2 linked regions of the Homo sapiens genome follow. The protein of the gene in region 2 purifies or fractionates together with the protein of the main gene of each other region. This does not show direct contact. Each region holds a gene or a part of one and is shown on either strand. Other genes may lie near its edges. The genes, in order: ANKLE2 and OR5L1.

Region 1 (3,243 bases), on a different chromosome or scaffold from region 2:
AGGCCCGTCAGCCAGGCTGTGGATTTGGGTGTTGTGGCTCTCTGCACACAGGACAGAGCTCTGGTTGGGTGGAAAAGCTGAACGGGTCAGCTCCTGACAAGCTGAGGGCTAGAAGGGTGGAAGCAGCAGGGTTTCTACTCAGATCACACAGGATTCTCCGGGAAACCCCCATGAGCTTGACTCTCCCAGTGCCCGCGGTGCCAGGGTTCAGCAGTGCCTCTCCTCCACCCAGACGCATGTGCCCACGGTGCCAGGGTTCAGCAGTGTGTCTCCTCCGCCCGGGCGCGTGTGCCCGCGGTGCCAGGGTTCAGCAGTGCGTCTCTTCCACCCGGGCGTGTGTGCCCGCGGTGCCAGGGTTCACCAGTGCCTCTCCTCCGCCCGGGCGCATGTGCCTGAGTCTGGGGCCATTATTCTCCGACTTTTGCTGTTCATCTCCGGGCCTGTGCCCGTCTGCTAACAGTTCTTTCTTGCTTTCCGCAGTTGGCCCAGTCCCGCGGTGAAAGGAAGGTTCAAGTCTCAGCTGCCAGATCTCAGTGGCCCTCACAGCTACAGTCCGGGGAGAAACAGCGTGGCTGGAAGCAACCCCGCAAAGCCAGGCCTGGGCAGTCCTGGGCGCTACAGCCCCGTGCACGGGAGCCAGCTCCGCAGGATGGCGCGCCTGGCTGAGCTTGCCGCCCTGTAGGCTTGGCGCTGGGCTCTCGGTTTGTTCTTCATTTTTAAAGAAGGAAGGGTCATATGTTTATTGCTAAACTGTCAAAAAGGAATATATTCTGATTAAATTATTACTCCTCACTTTGAGGGTGTGAGAATTTTAGAAGATTTAAATGTTCTATATAACACTTAGATTTCTGATATTTTGGAAGAAGTTAGAAGTTAATGAAAGCAAACTCAGTTACCAATTTTCTGGAAAATATCCATGTGGTAATGGTAGACTTTTTAGGTGGCAATTTCTAGGTCTGAAATATAGCAGAGGAAAGGGCGCTGAGGCAGTTGCAGGCAGGCAGCCCTGTACTTACCCTGTACTCACCTCATCCGACAGACGCTGTGGATGAGGAGGGGCTTGGCGGAGGCGTGAGCACCGATGTCCCTTTGATAACCTGCACTCACCAAGATGAACTATTTGCCGCCCTGTCTTTTCCTGGGTTGGGGGGTGGCATCTGATGGTGGCAGAGTGCCTGTTGGTTCGCCCGTGGGTCTCATGGTTCAGACAGAGGGAGGTGGACGGCAGGGATCAGGGAGCCAGGAGCGCGCCTCAGACTTGCAGCAACCATTGTGATTTGGGTTGTTCGGAATATTTAAATTACTGATCAGAAGATGAAAGTAGCTTTTCTCTTGGGAAGTCTTGCAGCCCGTGGGAGTGATACCAGGAGCAACACAGAGCTCAGCAGCGGCGCCAAGGTGTTCCCTGTTTCCTCAGCACGTGAGCCTTCACCGCCTGCTTCATTCAGGAGCCAGTGCAGCAGTAATACAGTCTATACATTGTTCTGTTTTCAAATTTATCCTGAGGCTTTGTTGAGCATAAATGATTATACGATAAAGGTATCCGTTATTTTGGAACTCATTTCAGTTGGGATCTCCTGTATGCAGAGTGTTGCATTTAGAGGTTTGAGTCCCATCTTGGTTTCTTGCCGTGCTGACTGTAGCCTTCACCTTGACTTGAATGAAGGTCTGTGGTTGGAATGTGTGAGGAGCCGCTGAGGTGTTCAGGAGGTGCTGCCTGGAGGTCGGTTTCTTCCTGGGTGTTACGGGCAACTGCTCACACAGTTGTTTCTCTGTGAACATTTCCAGTGTTTAATCCAAAATGAAAACCCACCAATGCTTTTGCTAACTTCAGTGCCTTTTATAAATCATTTTTAAATTTCCTGAACTTGCTTTTTGAGGATATACAGGGATATTAAGTAGACGCAGGATTGTTTTTGTTTGTAAAAATTCTGAATTGAAACTTTGTTTTAAAAAAAGGCTTCTTTCTTTCATATGACAAGAGATAGGTCAGGAATATTGGAATCAAGATTTAAATGTTAAAATTCGATTTTGTTACACAGGGTGTGTTCATTTGTTTTGTAGCAGACAAGATCTAGATCCCAGACAGAAACAACACATGCTATTCTAAAAAGCCGCATTTTAAAAGGCACCTTGGTTCTCAAAAGAAATCAGAATATGGATATTCGTAGTGATGATCTGTTTTCTCTAAAATCTTACCATATTGTCTGTATATGGTTGTAAATTCAAATGGAAAGTAAAACGTTTTGGCCCTGATTTTGTATGTGGACCACTGCTCCTGATTTCCCAGGTCTTAGGCCACCTTTGACTGTTTCTCCGTTTGTTTGTGGGCAGCGATTCCAGTCCCAACGGAGGCATTCTCGTGTGTCCCGGGGGGTTATGTCCTTCACAAAACACTTAATGAAATGAATTACTTCAAAACCGCGTGGTAATAATTGCAAGCTTTCGGAAGGATCCCTCACTTGTGCCCAGGCGCACGGCACTGTTTTGGTTGGACGGCCATCAACCTGGGTGCCCTCAGATTCGCTCGCTGTTTTTAAGCCCCTTTCTTGACTCAGTTGTGAAAGATTTTCTGGCATCCGTTAAAAGAGCACAGATTTTACCGTTGCTCTTGGCAGTGGGAAACCTTGGTGACATTAACAGTTGCTGTGGTGGCTTTGGTTGGAAAGTGCCCTTCTCCAGCGTGGTGGCAGCTGTGAGGGAGGCGCCCGGTGAGTCTGCTGCTCGTTTCTGGGTAAAAGCAGCCATGGTGCTGCGTACCAGCCGTGGGAGTGCCAGCGGCGCCATGGCAGGGACCACAGCCAGGTCCTCCAGAGCCGTGTGGATGTTTCCAGAAGCCTGCAGAGTTTTCCCAGGGAAGGGCTGATGGAAACCCTCATTGGGGCCCGGCTGTGCGTGCGGGGTGCAGGCGTGTTTGTCGTGGTTGGAAACCCTGTGACTGCTCCAGCTGCAGATTCCCGCCCGTGCTCCCTCCTTAGAAAAGGCTTTGGGATAAACGTCGGCATGGCGACCCCTGGCAGCTGGCCGCCATCTGGTGGCATTGCCTTTCCCACCAGTCTCATTGAGGCTTCTGGTGTGCAGTTTTCACTTTGGCCAGACAGAGGCTATCGTTACTAACATGTGAGAAGTCTTCAGTCTGTCCCAAACCAGGGGACGGTTTCCATCGTTGACGTCGCTGGGCCCCTGTAACTCACCCAGTCCAGACACCCTCAGCCTTCCCCTCATGCGGCTCCCTCCACGCAG
Region 2 (3,267 bases):
GTTAATTCAGAAATGCTGAGATTCATAATAATTCTAAATTATTATATGCACATGTTTATGTATATATAATATATATGTATATAGCATAGACAGAGAGAAAAAGAGAGAACTACTTATTATGTTTCAGGGATTATTCTAAGCTCCTTGTAAGTGATTCCAGCTTTTTAAATTCAATTTTCCTAGAGTCCTGTGAAATTATTATGTTTTTCATCTATCATATAACATATTATCCAAAGTTCCAATGACACTGGAAACTAAAACAACAGCAAGAAAATAATAAAGAATTTTAAAATGTCAAAAACTGATAAATATATACACATTATACATATATATGGAATATATAAATATTCCATATGTATTCCACACATATATATTCCATATATACATATAATCCATATATATATGAAATTCTACAAACTTCAATGACAATGTAATCATCAATACAAAATAATGAAAACTTTGTTTTGAAAAGAATCGTAGTTTCCATAATGGATCCTGAAATAAATTGTAACCCTTGTAAGTTCTTCATTAGAAGACTTGTAATGGTTTTAGAGAAAGCAAAACTTGTCTATCTTAATAATACTATTGCTCATATCCATTTAAACATTATGTATTTATTTTTTAAAAGTTGGCAGCAAATTTTGAAATATGTTCAATCCTACTCCTTAAAGTTTAAGAAGCACAAAGATAAGTGAATCAAAAAAGACTCGCTTATAACTACTGAGCTCCTTCTTCTCTGTACTCCAACACTGTGCCTCTCCCGTGAACCCCCGCCTGCCACTACTTGGGAATCCTGAATTGTGCTAATAAAATCTTCCCTAGGAGTGAATTTTGGAGCCCATCACTTTTCTGAGAGCTTCTTTCACATCTTTATTTCTCAGGCTGTAGATCACAGAGTTCAGCATAGGAATCACGACTGTGTAGAACACGGTGGCCACTTTGTCAGCATCTCCACTATTGCCTGAACTGGGCCTGCAATAAATGGAAAGGACTGTTCCATGGAAGACAGTGATAGCTGTGAGGTGGGAAGCACAGGTGGAGAAGGCTTTGTGCCTGCCCTCTGCAGAGCCCATCTTCAGGATGGTGGTGAGAATTAGCAGGTAGGAGGTGAGGATGATCATGATGGTAACACTCTCATTCAAAGTGGCCACCAGGAACAGCAGTGTCTCATTCACAGTGATATCAGAGCAAGCAAGACTTAAGACAGGAGGTAGATCACAGAAAAAGTGGTTAATCACATTAGATCTATAGAAGGGGATCCTAAGAGCTAAGCACAAATGAATCAGAGAACACACCGTCCCACAGAAGTAGCAGCAAGAAGCCAGCTCCACACGCACCTTCCAAGACATGGTGACTGTGTATAGCAAAGGGTTACAGATGGCCACAAAGCGGTCATAGGCCATCACGGCCAGCAGGAAGACCTCAGTGACCACACAAGTGCAAAACAAGTAGAATTGCACCATGCACCCTAGGAAGGAGATGGCTTTGTCCTTGTTAAAGATATTAGCCAACATTTTTGGCACAATTATTGAGGAGTAGCAGAAATCTACAGAGGACAAGTGGCTGAGGAAAAAGTACATGGGGGTGTGGAGCCGAGAGCTGACCTGAATCAGTGCAATCATGCCCAGGTTGGCTAACAACGTGACTCCATAGATGAGAAGGAACAGCAGGAAGAGGCAGACTCTCAACTCAGGGACATCTGATAGTCCAAGGAGAATGAACTCAGCCACAGTGGTGCAGTTTTCCTTGCCCATGTCTCCAATTTATATGAGATTGGAGGAAAAGAAACTTAAAAATTATTCTCCATTATATAGTCTAAATTTTAGTTTTGGCTGTATCCTGTAAAAAGACACCAGAAAAAGTAGGATAGTTTATCTTATCAGCAAAGAATAAAACTTTTTGTGAAATTTTAAAAAGTTCAACTTTGTATAACACAAATGCATAAACTTAGTTTAATTCAAAGATCAAACAAAAATATTAACGTATATATGAATTTATATTGTTCTTTTAATTAGTCTTTGAGAATTGACAGCTTTTCACTGAATCATTGGGAATGAGGTCAACTTACTATTTAATTAGCCTCCTTACTCTTTCAAATTCAAATCCCATTTTCTTAGCCAACTCCAAATATTGGGATCCTAGAAAATAATGTTTAGAATCTACGGCACCTCTCTCTGAATTTTTCATTACAGTGATGAGAAATACACTTATTTAAGATGTTAGCAGTCAAGTGTTTGCATTTTATTGATATATTTTAGATGAAGAAACTCATTTTATAATCTGTATTAGTATTTTCTCTGTAAAATTAGTATGGTGATTTGGTTAATTACATTTTTCAATGTCAGCCATGGTTTAGGGAATTGGTACTCTTGGGGACAACTTACTGTAAGTATGACTCCACAGTCTTAAAAAATTATGTCTTAAATAAATTTACTGCTTTCAATCTATTTGAAGACCTGATCAAAGATGTGCATGGGAAATTACTAAGAAAACTTCCCACTGCTGCATTGCAGTATTGTTTGTAATATTAAAACTTAGAAATAAAATATCAAATAAGAGAAAGATGATCACATTTGTAGTGTATATAATATAAAAGCATGCAGTCATATAAAGGATAACTTTAAATCATCTTAATGATATCAATAAATGACTGTGAAAAGGGATAAAATACTTAAAAACAGCCAGAATGTAGAGAAAAAATAGTATATAATAATGTATAATATAAATACATATATTTATGCCACACACAATCGTATATTTAATCCTTACAACATCCATGAACATAAATATTTATTTTAAAAAATCTGTTAACTTGTCTTACTTCTCCCAAAACATCATTATTAGTGAGTGAAATGGGGAAAGACGTTGGAATTTTTAAAATTAGGGACACATACTTTTTAGACCTTTGACACACAGCAAACGTAAAGTGAGGGTGAGAATCTTGTCATTCTTTCTCTTCCTGACCCTTGATACGTTCATACATCATTGTAGAAGCACCAGTCAAGCACTCCTGCAAGAAAAAAATCTGGACTAGAGACCAACACAACCAGACATTTTTCCCATTCTTCAACTGATTTCAAAGATATGCAGCATGCATATTGCTAAATGCCAGGTTGAAAATTTAAAAAAATTGTTTTGATAATATGGTGTTTTCTCTTAAAATGACCAGGAGAGGTGAGTTGTGTATCTTCCCCTGAGTTCAAACTAATACACACTTTTGAAAGCCCTTTCCTGCTTTCAAATCTAAAGAAAAAAAAAATCAAGCTG

What was found.
Region 1: the proteins of OR5L1 (region 2) and ANKLE2 purify together in Homo sapiens (affinity purification with mass spectrometry; one large-scale study listed by BioGRID and IntAct). This does not show direct contact.

Annotation. Positions count from the first base shown.
Region 1 is NC_000012.12:132,724,681-132,727,923, reverse strand, and holds the end of ANKLE2 (ankyrin repeat and LEM domain-containing protein 2), read left to right. Parts: intron 1-480; coding exon 481-682; 3' UTR 683-2,421; downstream 2,422-3,243. UniProt on the Homo sapiens protein: Involved in mitotic nuclear envelope reassembly by promoting dephosphorylation of BAF/BANF1 during mitotic exit.
Region 2 is NC_000011.10:55,809,954-55,813,220, reverse strand, and holds OR5L1 (olfactory receptor 5L1), read right to left. Parts: upstream 1,855-3,267; 5' UTR 1,755-1,854; coding exon 819-1,754; 3' UTR 745-818; downstream 1-744. UniProt on the Homo sapiens protein: Odorant receptor.